Linked DNA regions of Homo sapiens: region 2 is linked to region 1. Evidence: fine-mapped expression QTL. Tissue or cell type: whole blood. Region 1 holds a variant in brackets; the other region holds the start of a gene. All regions are shown on one strand. Distances are between the middles of the regions.

Region 1 (8,188 bases):
CTTCTCCTGCTTGCAGACCTTAAGTCCAAGCTGTGCTTTTCGGCACCTCTCCCTGTTTGGCTCTCTTCTTTTTGCCGTCGCGTTAAGCAAAGTACAATAAAGGAAGATCACTTCCCTGTGGTATCTTTTTCATTGCGTGGTCTCCCTAGCAACACTTAAGTTGCCACTCCTAAGACAAGATTAGTTTTTTGTAAATTTCAAATTGCACCTTGCTGTATTGAAACTCTTCTCACTTGCTGGGTTTTGAGTGAAATCTCTTCCCTCCCACCAGGACCCCATTCTGGTCACCCACTCTTTTGAACCGTTGTTGGGGACGAAAATACTAGGTTTAGAGTAGGTGAAACGGTCAAAACCAAATTTCTATTAAATATCAATTGTACTAAAATAATTTCAAACCAACTTGATCCAAACTTTGCTAGAAAGAGTCAGGAATAAGTGAAAAGGGAGAGAACACTAATATCTTAAGTTAATGGGTTTCTTGCCTATAAAATGCCCTCAATAAATTTATTTGAAAACTGCTTCTGTATAGTAACATGAACTACAATACATTTCAGGATAAATTATTATCTATTTGCCATAGTATTGCAAGGAAAATTTTCAGTAAACTAAAGCAAAAGTTTAGCTTCAAAACACTTTATTTTTATGTCCCATAAGACATACAAATATTTTATTAACTCCTTCACGGGTTAACAATTTAGTTTGTTTTCTCGAAACAGCCATCATCAACACACTGCTTTCTCATAGCACTGCTTGCACAAACTTTTTGTCTTTTCTTAGTCTGCAAAGTCACTGCTGAATTCTCCTCAAAGATTATTTTTTTCCCGTAGTTTGGTCATTTTTTCCATCTCAAGAGTCATTTTGCCCAAATACTAAGGTAAATCCATGCTACTAGAGAAACTCGGCCATGCCGGAAACTAAACTAGCAACACGACCCTCCTACGAAAACGGGGGACAACTCACGTTAGCTAATGCAGTTTGGCATCTGAAGTGTGCAGCATAGCGAAGACCTGTTGAATAATAGTGACTTGAAGACTCGAATATTCTAGACTAGGATCCATCTCCCACTATCTAAACCCGCAACTGAAATATCTACATAATGTTTGCATATCTTTGGCCAGTACCCTTTGGGGGAGCTTCCAGGTGCTGAGCTTTCTTCCATCTTTGGATAAATTCGTTCTAGCCTTCCGGAGTTCAGGAGCAAGCAAAGGGAATCAGGTGCAGAGAAGGACGTGAGGTTTTCCTCTGTCGGGGCTAGGGGAGTTGTGGAGATTTGGGGTGGAAGGGACAGCGCTTATTGAACTTCTGGGTGCCTAAGGTTTACTCTCTCAGTCTGGGTTTTGGGAATCGCTTTCTTTCACAAGGGATTTCCTTTATGACTTGGAGGAAAGGGGTAGTTAAGATCTGCATTTCATTAATCAAGAATTTCTTACTTTTTTTAAAAAAGTATGCTCCTAATCCAGTTTCAGAATGACTTTTCTGGATTATTGTAAGTACGTCAGAAACTCCCAGACCTGAGTAGAAATTTCAGAACCACTTTTGCCAGAGAAAACTGTGAAGAAAAGAAGCATGGGAAACTCATTTTCTTTATAATAAATCAGAACATTGAGGATACTGATCAGGTCCCCCTGAGAGGAGCATCTTCAGTGATGTTTGTTCGCCATCTGTGTGTGTTCGGTGAAAACTCTAAACCATTTTACAGCATAGATTACTATTTTTTTCCTTATTATCCAGCGTTTGTTTCAATTAAAACCCTACTATTCCATAGGATTGCTGCTGTTGTATCCATTTTTTTCCCCTTCAAAGTCTTTTAAAATAAGTTTCCTTGTCTCTTGCCCATTTGTCAATGTCAAGTATACACTGCCTATTTAGTTAAAGAAAAGTGTGTATTTCATATGTTATAAAAGAACAGCCTTCTTTATTTGGTTTCTTGGAAATCAATAATCTCTTAAACGTTTACCAAGACCCCTTGGGGAAAGGAGAGATGTAAACAATAACCACCAAACTTCAACATGACAATATCGGTTAAAATCTGCAGGATGATCATTCGAATGTGGAGAGGTAAAGGGGGATGATTTCAAACTCCCGCGATTACGGAAGAAGGGACCCCAGGTGTCGGATGCCTGGCTCCATCCTCTGCAACTTGCAAGGGAGTTACCTTGGAGAGTGGGGAGTTAATTCTAAACTTCTTTACCAGGCATTTTAGTAGCCACGCTGGTCTTCAAATAATTTAATTGGGAGGTGGCTGGATGACCACAGAGAGGTTGCAAAAGATAGTTATCCCCATTAAAAGAAATACCATGATTTCAGTCTTTCCTGACATAATTAAAGGCTTTGGTAACACTCCTTTATTTTGCCTCATGCTGTGAAAAAAATCACTTACTTCTCCAGCAAATGAAACTTTAAAATAAATTCTGCAGTTTAATTTCTGCTTTTAAAAGTTAGTAGGTATACGAGGAAACAGAGAAAGCATTAGAACAACTGAGTTACACTTCAGCTATTTAGCAGTTTAACATTAGAAGGAAGAATACAGCCAGTTTTCAACTTAGCCAACTTTTAAAACTACATGTGTTCCTGGAAAATAATACCCGACTAGAGTCAATTTGCATGAGATTCTAAGCTAGGATCTCAAGAAGGTGATAAAATATATGAAATTTCTTGAGTAAATGGTTGGGGAGGATTTGTAAGCATCTGAGGATCTAGTGATCTATTAGAAGCACAATGCACTCAAATTTGAATTTTCATGATCAACTTTCAACCCTGAAAAAATGAGAGCCATTTGCTTAACTTAATCTGTAACATATGTTTGCACCAGTAGCAGGTTTTTTGGTGTGTGGCTGGGGCTGATCAAGTTGTAAATTTTCTGCTTTAGGTTTTCAGCGCCTGCTAGTTTCAGCCTAACACCTAGAGAGAGTCTTTGCGGGGTTCTTCACCAAAGCAGCCAAGGTTTGACAAAAGGTTTCCAAACCACCGAGCTCTGTGTGTTGTTAATTTCCCCCAAAGGTAGAACATTTCTATACAAATTAGTTTCCAAATCCTAAAAGCAAGTAACAAGTTAAACTCTCCCATGTCAAAGTGTTTAAAGTTATAAAGAGATATTTTTAATTTGCAACCGTTGCCTTCCTCACCAGCAATCCTTTCTTTAAAAAACAGACAATGGTATGAGAGCAGTGGGTGCTGTGAAAATGACATCTTCATTCGACAAAACAATATTCAGGTCTTTTTGGCTTATCTTAATTTTTTCCACCAGAAATTTAGAACTACTGATTTTCTCTCTTCGTGCTTCAACACAAAGGAATCCCTCCAAAAGTGTTTTGAATATCTGAGAAGAATCATTTAGTGATTGAAATAAATATACATTAGAATCCACAAATCATTCTTCTTGTGAAACAAGCTGTGTAGTGACTTTCATTACTAATATTAAAATATATCTCTTTGTAGACATAAATTTTTAGTACTTGGGCTATAAAGAAATCATAATACTTTTTCAATCAATTAATGCTATCTCATAATGACAAATGAAAGTAATAAGTTCCCCACATCAGCCTGATTCATCTTCGAGTGAGAATGGGGAGTAGTGGTGGGAGAGGGTGGTGGACTCTAGTGGGAAACCTCGACGATTGTAAATCACCATCTGGACCTGCTGAGTTGTCCTCTTGAAAACCTCAATCACATTCTTGGAGGAAAGTTACTAAGGTGCCTTTTTAAGTGCACCAGAACAGGTAATTGAACCACACATGTGCCCTAAATTTAGGTGCAGAGTTTCCCTGAATTTCATTATTATATGGATTAAGATGGGCAGCTCCCACCTGGACGATACCTTAATCAAAAAGAGAAAAAGTGTGACGAAAACAAGGGCAATAATAACATTACCAGCACTGTACTGATCAAATGCCCACAAATAGTTCAGAACAACGGTGCTAAAAAGCCGCTTTAATTCTGAAACAGAAAGTCCTGAGACACCGAGCGCCATCTAGCAAGCAAAGTTAGAATCAAAGTATGCCTGAGTCAAGCACAGAGCACAGAAGGACAGGGGATGGGGAGGTAAAGGGGGACTTCGAGATCACTTGCTGTGATTTAACCATCCACCCAGTCTCACCTGAGCCCAGAGCTACCTGCAAGTTTCTGCTCTTCGCCTCACCGACCAGCTCAAATAAACCTAACAACTGAGGTGAGACAGACCGTTTCT[G/A]CCTCCAGCCAAGGCTAAAGGACAGCTCCTCGCAGGATTGCTTATTGTCTTTAATTAGAACAGGCCGCTTCTCCATCCCCTCCTACCACCTCCCCAAAATCAGCCTAGTGTCTAACTAGTTTTGCACCTTCTTATCCAAATGGGGACAAAGAGCAGTGCCTGAAAGGCTCACCTTGGGCTGAAATGATTCCCAGGGCTTCAGCGCAGAGGAAAGCGCATCGCTGGGAAAACATAGCACGATATGAGAAGTCACTCTGAGTTTACAAGGCTGCCCAGACGCCTCCTGACAGGCGATCTGAGCTCTCTCCGAGTGGCATAAGACACATATTTACTTAACAAGCCACTGATGGTCATGGAAATGGAATGCTGCCTCCTAAATATAAATGCTGTAACTTTATTCTTCTCCAGGCAACTGGGTCTTTGATATTTTCTTTGGCTGAAGAAAAGTCAAAGGTAGCTAGAAAGCTAGAAAACTACCCTGTTAGTGTGTAGCTTGAAGGGGGTGGGGGTGGGGTTGAAACACTTTTTAAAAATAATTTTAAAGTTTGAATAATGTTACCTAATTATATGAATATTCTTTGGAACTGGGCTAACAATGTAACTACAAAATAAAGCTTCTGGGATTTCAATGTGAAGAAAGTAAAGAATAATCTGCTGGTTTCTGTAGAGGCAGGTACCGCATATTTTTCTTTTAAACCAGTCCATCTGAATTCAAAAGACTGAGAGAGTTCATCTCAATAATATGTGTGCTTTCTAAAGAGTCTTTCTGGAATTTCATTTTAAGGCTGGAAAATAATCCAGTGTATATACATGCTAGTCTTAAACTACTCTTAATTTCCTGCTATTGAATATTGCCTCTATAGTAGCTCATTGATTCACATTGTTCTTAGAATACAGAGCCAGAGCTAGGCTTTTCTATTGTTCTCTCCTCATCTCCATGTCCCACACACAATTTTTTTCCCAGTGAAGTGAAGTTTTGTAAAATAACAACAAAAACAAAAACAAAAAAATTAGAAAATGAAATATTAAAATATTCCTGTTGAATATCAAATGCTACTCCAATCTCAGGTTTGCTACTTAATGAACACAAGCACAATAGATATGAAATAACAGTCCTCTTGATTTTTCTACTGTGCTATTTGCTGTGCAAAACAACCACATTAAGAATAAAGGAAGCATGAGATAAGAGTATGCTTAACACACTCACAGGTCATAGAACTTACAGGAAAAAAAAATCTCAGAAAAATCACAACCCACCCAACAAACCTAAGCCAATAAAGAGAGACTTCATAGTTTAACCCACAATTTAGAACACATCTAATACATTTCTACAAAACCTCCTTTTCTCCTTATGCCTGAAAATATGTGTAAAGATCTGAGGATGGACAGTAGACACAATTCATGCTCTCTCTTATTTCCCTCTCCCTCTCTGAAGTTCAGAAGAAAAGTTCCCAGGGCAGTCTTGCCTCCGGATGCCAATAAAAATTTAACTTTGTGTGTGTGTGTGTGTGTGTGTGTGTGTGTGTGTGTCTTGTTAAATAGTACATTTCTCCCATCAAGGTCTTCTTAAACACGGAACCTTCTCCTAGACAGGGTACCCAGCTGTTTAATTTAACATTGATTTATTGCTTTTAAAAGTAAATTTACACACATGCCAGCAGCGCTCCGTTTTGTTTCCCCAGACCCTGAGATTTATTTTCTACTTAGCGCTTGTCTGACAAAACAATGTCCTTTAACTTTATTACACATCGATAAGGAAATCTGTCTTATTTTTGTTCAGATTTATTGCTGTGTTACTTGTGGGGACTTTTGTGATCCAGAAAGGCTCAGGTCCGAAAATAAATAGAAAATTAAACAGAGTTGATCACAAAATAATGATCAAAACCTTACAATATTGTCCAGCCTATATCAGCCTGCTGGGGGGTGAGGTGGGGTGGGACAGAGGATGATGCTCCCCTAGTGAGCACAGTTGCTCTGGAAGAAAACAAAATGTCTTTAATGGGCAGGTAGCGTTTGAAGGTGGAGTAGCCAAATCTGGGTTCTGTAATATCTCCAAGTTCTTGGTTGAAATGTATTTGGGATTACAGGGCAGGGAGGTGCATCTGCGGGACTCCCCACCCTATGGCGGCCTTACCTCCGTGCAGAACTCCCAATTATCACGCGTTCGTGATGACTGAGCCCAAGGGAATTAAGATGGACTTTGAAGCAGCTTTTACGGTACACTTCATCTACATTTGGGTTTTCTTTAGTTCTCATTAAAAGGGCCACTTTCTTCTTTTCATTGATATATGTCTTTGTGTCCTTCATTTCACACTCTTAAAAAAAGTTCTCTCATCAGATCAAGTGCAAAAAGGAGGGGACGACATAATAACCATCATAATCATGATAACAACAACAACAACAAACAAGTGGTACTGTGGGTTTAAATCTTTTTTAAAAGAAGGTTTTCTCCTCTATATGGCATGGCCCTCCAATTAAAAAAAAAAAAGCTGGGGTTGAGAATGAGGATAATAAAAGTGTTTCTAAGGTTAAATTACATGAAGGCAGGCTTAAAAAAAAATCTCTGAATGTGATGAGCTTTCCTCTCCCATCCTGATTTCTCACAGAGACATTCAGTAATCACTTTAGAGCTGTTCACATGAGGAAATGAGGACACTATCTTTTCTAGTAAGAAGTGAAGATGTGACAGGTTTTGTTATTGGAATGAGGGAGAACTTCGTAAGATATTCCCTTTTTTCGCCCCTACAAACCCAGCATCTTTAAAACCCCCTGTCTGAAAGCGTGACTCGTCTGTTGCCTTTCCACTCTGGTCAGTGGGTCCTCGAAAACACCATAACATGTTTCAATAATTCTGACAAACCCATGAAGATTTTTTAAAGTTAATGAATCATTCTTTCTCCTGAAAACACATAAAAACACGTTTGTGCACGCAATTCCAATCTAATGAGAGAAAGAAAGAAAAGGGAAGGAAGGAAGGAAAGAAGGAAGGAAGGAAGGAACGGAGGGAGGGAGGGAGGGAGGGAAGGAAGGAAAGGAAGGGAGGGTAAGGACAGAAAGGAAAGAAAGAAAAATAGGAAAAAAGGAAAGGAAAAAATATCCCTCTTTAAAAGGGGGGAGGTGGAGTAACTGCGAAACATTGAAAATTCTCCTATTCATATTAGGAGCTTCTTCTTCTTCTTCTTCTTTTTTTTTTCTGTTTGCCCTTTGAAAAGGGGTCCTGTCACTCAGAAAGGGGCTGTTTCTTCAACCTCCTCCCCATCCACCCACCAGCCGGCCCCCCTCAGCCTCGCAGCCGGCCCCGGCCCACCCCGCGGCCCTCCCAGCGCACACACAGTTTCTTCCAAGTGCTTTTTCAAGTAAGAGCCGGAGAGATGAGAGGTGCGGCTTCTCCAGCGCGGAGCCAGACAAGTACTTCTCATCCCGGCGGAGCGCGGCCCGGCGCGGCCAGCCCGAGGCCCGGACGTTCTATGTCAAGAAGCCCCACGGCCCCCCGGGCTGGCCGCCCCTCCCCGCGGCTGGACAGCGACGTCGCGCTCGGGCCTGTCACGTGGCCGCGCCCCCCCGTGCCCCCGCGGAGCCCTTTGTTAAGCCCCCGGGTCTCCACGCGCGGCCGCCGTGGCTGGGGCGGTGCCGCATGGTGGATGCGCCCGGAAGACGATCGGGGTACCCTGGCTTTGCCTCGGCTCACCACGCAGCCCCCAAACACCTTGGGCGGAGGCCCCAAGCACTTGGCAAATCAAGATTCTCAGTCCTTTGAGGAAAACGGCCCTGGGCCACCTCCAGTGTTTCAAACCAAAGGCACAAAGTGGGGCAAGGGGGCCAGTGGAGGGCGCGCCTCTGCACAGGGGTGTAACCACTGGGCTGACTTCCCTCCTCCTTTCCATTCCGCCTCACCAGTTCCTCGCCTTTTTTTTTTCTCTTCTCTTATCCTCTGCCACGCTCAGAGGCTCAGTGGGTGGGAGTGTGTGTGTAAATGTGTGTGTGGTGTGTGTGTGTGTGCGT
Region 2 (8,188 bases), 500 kb before region 1:
ATGCTTTTAACAGCATCCAAGTCACCTCTTGAATGCTTTGCTGCTTAGAAATTTCTTCTGCCAGATACCCTAAATCATGTCTCTCAAATTCAAAGTTCGACAAATCTCTAGGGCAGGGGCAAAACGCTACCAGTTTCTTTGCTAAAACATAACAAGAGTCACCTTTGCTCCAGTTCCCAACAAGTTCCTCATCTCCATCTGAGATCACCTCAGCCTGGGTTTCATTGTTTATATCATTATCAGCATTTTGGTCAAAGCCATTCAACAAGTCTCTAGGGAGTTCCAAACTTTCCCACATTTTCCTGTCTTCTTCAGAGCCCTCCAAACAGATCCAACATACTCAAGACTGGGCAATTTACAAAAGAAAGAGGTTTAATGGGCTTACAATTCCACATGGCTGGGGAGGCCTCACAATCATGGCAGAAGTTGAAAGGTACATCTCACATGGCAGCAGACAAGAGAAGAGAACTTGTGCAGGGAAACTTCCATTTTAAAACTATCTGATCTTGTGAGACTTATTCACTATTACAAGAACAGCAGGGAAAGACCTGCCCCCATGATTCAATTACCTCCCATGGGTCCTTCCCACAACACATGGGAATTCAACATGAGATTTGGGGGGGGGACACATCAAACAATATCAGCAAAGTAATCTCAAGGTAAATGCTGCAGCTGCAAGTGCCACTCGTGAGTATTCTTAGGGCAAACAGGAAAAGGGTTACTGGCAATTCTATATTGCATATTGTCATGGATGGATTTTGGGAGGGTAACATGTCTTGACTCCACTGGGAAAGTACAGCAAATAATGGAAGAGTATAGCAAAAGCGCTGTGTTTGGTACCCTTTTGGACTCTGCCTTACGTGTTTCTTCCCTTGGCTGATGTTAGTCTGTATTCTTTCCTTGTAATAAATGGTAACTGTAAAGATAACAGCTTTCAGTGAGTTCTGTGAGACCTTCTAGCAAAATTTCAAACCTGAGGGTGTTTCTGGGAACCCTCCAAACTTGCAGTTGGTGTCAGAAATCAGGGACACCTTAGAGACTGTGCCCTCAAACCTCACAGGTTGTCTAACTCTAGGTAAATATATCAACCTACAAATTGTCTCCATCACAAACTAGAGGCTATTTTATGTTTTTTTGTTCGAAATTCTCTTAAAGTATGTTTTGAACACTGATATGTTATCTTTTCTCATTTTAAAAAAATTCCAGGCATAATGAAAAGGGTGTTCTTGGGTCTAACTCAGTTTTGTGTCCCCAGCATCTAGATGGAAAGTACAAGTGATAGGGGGTTGATTTCAAGTAATAATCATTTTGTTGGAGGGGTCATTAGAAATTATTTGGTTATATGATCCTACTTTTTGGGCTTTAAATATAAACTGAATCTAGAAGGCAGAACTTGTTGTAATTACTATCCACACTTCACACATACTGTCTTAGTCCATTTTCTGCTGCTGTAAGAATACCACACACTGGGTAATTTATAAACAAAGAGATTCATTTGGCTTACAGTTCTGGAGGCTGGGGAAGTCCAAGATCCAGAGGCTGCATCTTGTGAAGGTCATCTTGTGGCAGAAAGCATCACAGGGGGAGAGAGGGTGAGACAGAGTAGTGAGAGTGCACAAGACAGAGAGAAAATGGGGACCAAATTTATCCTTTTATCAGGAGCTCACTCCCATGATAACTAACCCACTCCCACAATAATGGCATTCATCCTTTTATGAGGGCACAGTCCCTATCACCTAAATCACCTCTTTAAAGCTTCACTTCTTAATATTATTACAATGGCAATTATGTTTCCAATGCATGAATTTTTAGAGAACACATTCAAACCACAGCACATTCCTGCTTGGGCTTGAGCAAGGGCAGGAATGTTACTTGATTCTCCAAATTTAAGTCAGAATCCAGACCTCATTCTAATACAGTTGGTTAGTTTGGACAGAGCTTTGCCCTTAGCATCTAATTAAGAATATTTTCCTTAATGGATTTTCTTGAGCTGCCAAAATGTTGGCACTGAGTCCTAGTCATGATAAGTAGGTTTAAATTTTATTTTTAACTTAAATGAACAACATGTAGCCTTGTTAGTATTTTTGGAGGTGTCTGTCTGCTGTATGTCACTGAAATCATTTAATGTGAAGGGTGGGAGTAGATTGATAAAAAGATAGATGCCCAAGGAAGTGGTCTGGAATAGGAGGAGGATACGCAAAATATGGTATAGGGACATTTCTTTGATCATCCTAGTGATCAAAGATGGACCAGCTGTTAGCCAGGAGGGAACAAATCTCCTTTCCTTTTTCCTTATCTTAGTAGGATTTTGAAGTGCAAGAGAAGAGAGGTGGGGAGAGAAACTGAAGTTTCTGGCTTCCCTAGAGATGTATAAATTAAAATTATAAACTAACTTGTACAGTTTAGATGACTATGGTTAAAATGAGGGGACATTTTTGTACTATATTGTGTAGTCATCATTGTAATGGTTTCTGCTAAGCTACACATGGGCTGTTGTAATTCTAACAAAACATCTAAGCCCACATACAATTTTTGTTGCTTTCCCTCCTTTCTCCTCACAGATTTGCAGAAGATATTTTTGTGGTCAGCTGAGGCAGGAGTTTACCATTTAGGGTAGAGTAAGGAGAGAAAAGGACTCACTCTGTTTCAGCACATAACCTCTTCATTCTTGATTTTGACATCTTAGGCAGGATTGGACTTGAAAGGATATTTACTCTTTGGCTGTTGTCATACAGCTATTAGTTTCTTTTGCTGAAAAACAAATCACTCCAAAATTTACTGGCTTAAAGTAACAAGAATCATTTTCATTATCTCTAATTGTTTCTGTGGGTCAGGAATTCAGAACTGGGCACAGTGGGGATGGCTCGTCTCTGCTTTATGAAATTTTGGACCCCAGCTGACTCAATGACAGGAACAATCTGAAGGCTCATTCATTCCCATGTAAGTCCAGCTGGAATTGCAGGCTGAAGCACCCATATGTTTGTTCAATAGTTTACTACTGAACAAAGTACATTCCCCTAACCCTTGAGTGGGCCTCTATCCTGGAAATATTGAAAGGTCATGTCACTCATCTTTTGACCAATCTCCATATTTTATGTAAACATTGGTATATTCTCTTAATGGAATGTTACTTTTTTATTCAATTTTCACTAGTTTTCTCACTTACGTTCTATTTCTATTTCAGGATCCAACATTAAAGTTGGTCTCTTTAGGCTCCTCTTGGCTCAGACAGTTTCTCAGACTTTCCTTGTTTTTCATGACTTTAACTGTTTGGAGTAGTACTGGTCAGGTATTTTGTCTGATGTTTTTCTCATGGTTAAACTGGGATTATACATTTTTGGGAGCCTTATCTTTTTAATATAATCTGTCACTGTTGCAAAAGTCCACCAAAATAAAAATGTTTCCCTCCTCTGTTCAACAATCCTTCAGCTTCCCCAATTGTCTGCAGCAGAAAATCAAATTACTCAGCATGACATAGAAAGCTTTTCAGAATCTGGCTGTTGCCTTCCTCTTCAGTATAAAGTGTCACTCTACAAACCATTTGAGTTCTTTCCGGAAATGAAGCCCTAACAGTCTTGCAATGCCCGAGATTCATTCAGGTACTCAGTTCTGGCTAACTCCAGTGGATTCTCTCACCTTTTACTGCTCCTTATCTCCCGCCACTTACTTACACCACTTTCTTCTTGTCCTATACACTTTTCTAGATTTCCCCAATCTATTATTTACCACTGTGATCATTCAGTCATTCAATAAGTATTTATTGTCTACTTTGTGGACAGGCACTGTTGTATGGTTGAGGATACATTAAAAAGACAAGATTATGTCACTACCATCAGTGAGTTTACATTTTAGGGGGCAGGGTACATTTGCAAAGTACAAACAGTGTGGAAGTGAAGTATACCTTAGAGAGTCTGAGATCTCCTCTCTGAAGAACATAACTGTTGGTTTACTTGTCAGCCACCAGACTTTCCTTCTCTTTAGCTGCCTCAGAGGAGAGGGTATCTAACTCAGCTTTGTTACCCCAGCGTCTAGTTTAGCCTAATTCATTAAATTAACAGTTTTGGACTAAATAAATGCTCTGAGAGTACTATCTAAAAATTAAAAATCAGTTGCTTCCATCCCTTTCCCCAGATTTATCCTTGAAATACCTTTCAAACCTGTTTCTGGAAAAAACATTAATATCCGTAAGATTCCCATTTGAGTCAAGTATGATAACGAGAAAACTTTTGTCATTAGGATGCTAATATTAACTTCCTATTTTACATGTCCTAATTCAAAGGTAAATTTAATCTTCCGAATCTAGACCTCCCGGTTTTTCTGGAGTTGAATGGACAGGGTAAAGTCTGACACACTCTGAGTAGCGGAGTGGGGAACTGGCTGTAAGGACATCCTTAGAATAGTTAAAATTCCGCTGGGAAAACGAGGCTTTAGAGTGGCCTCGTCCTCTACGGCTACCCAGGCAGCCTTCACAAGGAAGGGCGACCAGAGTCCGCCAGTGCATAAGAGAACTACACTTAATTCACGCGGGCCTCTTTCTCCAGTCCACCTAATACCACAGGAACCTACCCAGGGCCCGCGCCCCGCCCGTTTCCGGGTTGTCGCCGCCGCTGCCGTCAAGTGCGTAATGACGTATCAATCTCCTGAAGACCCCGGAAGTGCAACTCGAACTTGGTCGGGGCGCGGATCCCGAGAGGGAAAGTCATAACAACCGCACGAGGGAGTTCGACTGGCGAACTGGAAGGCCACGCCTCCTCCCGCCTGCCCCCTCAGCCCTGTGGCTGGGGGCAGAGCTCAGGTAGGACTGCCGTTTGCGGGGATGTGAGCTCCGGGGGCAGGCCCGGGTCGAAATCAGGAGGGGGCTGGCCTGGGTCGGTCTCAGGCGGTGGTCGCTGGCCCTGGGGACCGAGGCTGTCTGGAACCACGCTGCATTCCCTGCGGACACCTCTGACTTGTGTCTGGGCCTCCGCTGATGGGCAGGTCCCATGTTCCATTTCCACTCTCTAGGCGGGAGCGACGTGTGTGTTCCCTGGATGACTTTCCTTATGTCGGGGCGTACGGGATTCTGGGAGTCCCTGGAGACAGAGTAATGGGCCCTCCTCCGCTTTCTTGCGAGTGGAGGTATTGTGGTTGTTGTATTAATTTTTTTTTCTACAAAAAGTATTATTAACTGCCAGCGCTTTACCAGAAGTCATTCACTGCAGAGGGATTAAAGTGCAGTTATAAAATGCTCTCAAAACTTGTAACATGCATGGGCGCGGGTGGGACGTTTCTCTGGGATGCAGTATGAATTAAGTGTTGAATACTTTTGACTTTGAAATAAAGTAAGTATGTTTTGGAAGCAGTCTTCTCTTTCCCTCATCCAGGTGTTTAACATATTCTTATAGTGCTCCAGGGTCTATATCTGTTGGGCCAAGAAACTCGTTGTGTTTGGATATACTGTATTTAATGACATGCAATGTTGTTGCATTTGTCCATTTCTCCCAAATCCTCAAAAAAGCTGTAGAGGGAAAAATTCTCTGGTTTTTATCTACAAGTGCATTGTATATTTATCAAAATATCAGTGCGATTTTTTAATGTAGTACATGACATCGTTTGCATTAACGCATGCCATATACTGCATAACAAATATCTCATTGATAAGGTGTATTCTTTATCCTACAATGCGAGGGACGGTTACACTGTATACATTTAGCGAATGTAGAAACTGAGTAAGAGAGTATTTTTGGATCTGCTTCGTTAAGGCCTCAGTGACAGTGCTGGTACCAGGCTTCTTTCAGAATTTTCAACTAGGCCTTACTTCCACTTAACCAGTGAATCCTACGCTGAAAAGTTAAGGATGCTCTGGATGCTTTCAGGCTATGGCTGCTCCATATGGTAGAATAAATAGTACCAAGGCCAAGAGGGAAATATTATCTATGAAACCATGAGCATCCACTTGTTTATCCATTTAGCAAGTATTTACTGGCAACCTTCAGTGTGCCGGATAGTGTTCAGGTGATGGGAAGACAGCAGTAAACAAAATAGAAAGTCCTTTTGCTCCTGGAACTTACATTCTAGTGGATGGAGACGTATAATTAACAAGTAAATATATAACAAGTAGTGATTAAGAGGTATAGAGAAAGGCAGGGCGCGGTGGCTCACGCCTGTAATCCTAGCATTTTGGGAGGCCGAGGCGGACGGATTGCCTGATCCCTGGAGTTTGAGACCAGCCTGGGCAACACGGTGAACCCCGTCTCTACTAAAATACAAAAAAATTAGCTGGGTGTGGTGGCGTGCGCCTGTATTCCCAGCTACTCTGGAGGCTGAGGCAGGAGAATTGCTTGAACCGGGAAGGCGGAGGTTGCAGTGAGCCGACATCATGCCACTGCACTCCAGCCTGGGTGACAGATCGAGACTCCGTCTCCAGAAAAAAAAAAAAAAAAAAAAAGAGGTATAGAGAAAAATAAATTAAGGGGAGAGAGAATGATAGAGGATGCTATTTTAGATAGGGTGGTAAGCTCACCCTCTCTGATAAGGGAACACTTGAGTGGAGATCTGAATGAAATGAGGGAGTGAGCTCCGCAAGTATGGAGGAATGAGTTGGCCTAGTACAAAGGCACTGAGACAGGAGCGTGTTTGATATATTTGGAATAGCAAGGATGTAGGCATGGAGGTAGCAGTACTTAACAATCTCAAGAATGAATATTTATTCCTTGATTTGGTGGCATGAGGGATTTTATTTATTTACAGTTTATTTTTTTCAGCTTTCCCAGACAAACCTCTGAGGAGAATCTGGTGTCTGTAGATATGTAGAGATGTTTCTGTGCTCTTCATTGAGCTCTAACAAAAGTAAGCACTATTTACTCAGTTGTATACAACTTGTACTGTCTCTGTTTTTAGAGTCAGATTGGGTTTGCACAGTAGTCATTGGTAACTAAGTATGGAGTATGTCCCTGTACTATGCCAACTTTATTTTTCACTCAGAAGTTTTTCATCATCCCCAACTGAAACTTCATACCTATTAAACACTCACACCTCGTTTTCTGTTACCTTCAGCCCCTGACAACTGCCAATTTACTTTCTGCCTCTATGAATTTGACTACTCTAGGTACCTCATATAAGTGGAATCATGCACTATTTGACCTTTTGTGACTGGCTTATTTCACTTAGTATAATGTCTCCAACGTTCGTCCATGTTGTAGCGTGTGTCAGAATGTTCTTTTTAAGGTGAAATACAATTATCCATTGTGTGCATATGCTGTTAATACATTTTGTTTATCCATTCATTCATCCATGGATGCTTGGGTTGTTTCCATCCTTTGGTTATTGTGAATAATGCTGCTATGAACATGAGAGTGCAAATATCTGTTCAACTCTCTGCTTTCATTTCTTTTCGATATCTCTCCAGAAGGGAAATTGCTAGATCACATGGAAATTTTATATGTATATATATCTATATGTATACTTTTTTTCGAGGAATTGACACACTCTTTTCCACAGCAGCCACCTCATTTTACATTCCCACCAGCAATGCAAAGGAGTCCAATTTCTCCACATCCTCACCAACATTTTGCCACATCCTCACCATTTCTCCACATCCTTGCCAAACACATTTTTTGTTTTTTTGATAATAGCGATCCTGATGGGTGTAAAGTAGTATCTCTCTGTGGTTTTAATTTGCACTTCCCTAATGATTGGTGATGTTAAGCATCTTTTCATGTCCTTTTTGACCACTGGTATATATTTTTGGAGTTCTATGAATTTATTTTAAGATATGATTTAATAAAAATTTTTGGAGATTTATTTGGTGGAGTTTTTAAGGGTTAAGAAGGCAGCCACCATGACTTTTATTGCATTTTAACTCTTTAATCCTGTAATTGTAAAAACTCTCAACTTGTCTGTTGACCAGGTATCTGTAGTAACTCCAAACTTAGAAATTAAAAAAAAAAATACACCATCTTCTATAATAATAAATGAACCTTTTGGTTCAAATTGCCATGAAAACAGTTCAGAAAGCCAAAGACTATCCTGGCCTGTTTTGATTTTTTTTTCTTTTTAATTAGAAGAAAAGGAGTATATTAAATGGCTGACTGTGCCTGTGTAGTAGATGTCGTTTGTTTTGTAGCTGAGAAGAGCGGGGACCAGAAGAGCCAAACAGGATGAAGAAACAGAAAAGACGTGTTCTGGTTCTTGCTGAGAAGAGCAGGTA

Evidence for each region. PIP is the estimated chance that this variant, and not a neighbour inherited with it, causes the effect.
Region 2: it holds the start of ARB2A, and the variant in region 1 is fine-mapped to the expression of ARB2A in whole blood (TOPMed, PIP 0.96).

Annotation. Positions count from the first base shown.
Region 1 is chr5:93,603,780-93,611,967 of GRCh38, reverse strand. No RefSeq gene overlaps it. Among named protein-coding and RNA genes, the nearest start is that of MIR2277, 13 kb to the left of the region's middle. RefSeq lists a silencer at 3,851-4,145. The variant G/A (reference allele first, on the strand shown) is at 4,187.
Region 2 is chr5:94,108,118-94,116,305 of GRCh38, reverse strand. ARB2A (ARB2 cotranscriptional regulator A) reads left to right here and starts at 4,643. Exons shown (of 11, transcript NM_032042.6): 1 at 4,643-4,795. It overlaps LOC105379087 (a long non-coding RNA gene), which reads right to left and starts at 4,604. Exons shown (of 7, transcript XR_001742441.2): 1 at 4,567-4,604; 2 at 3,902-3,981; 3 at 2,641-2,751; 4 at 1,505-1,559.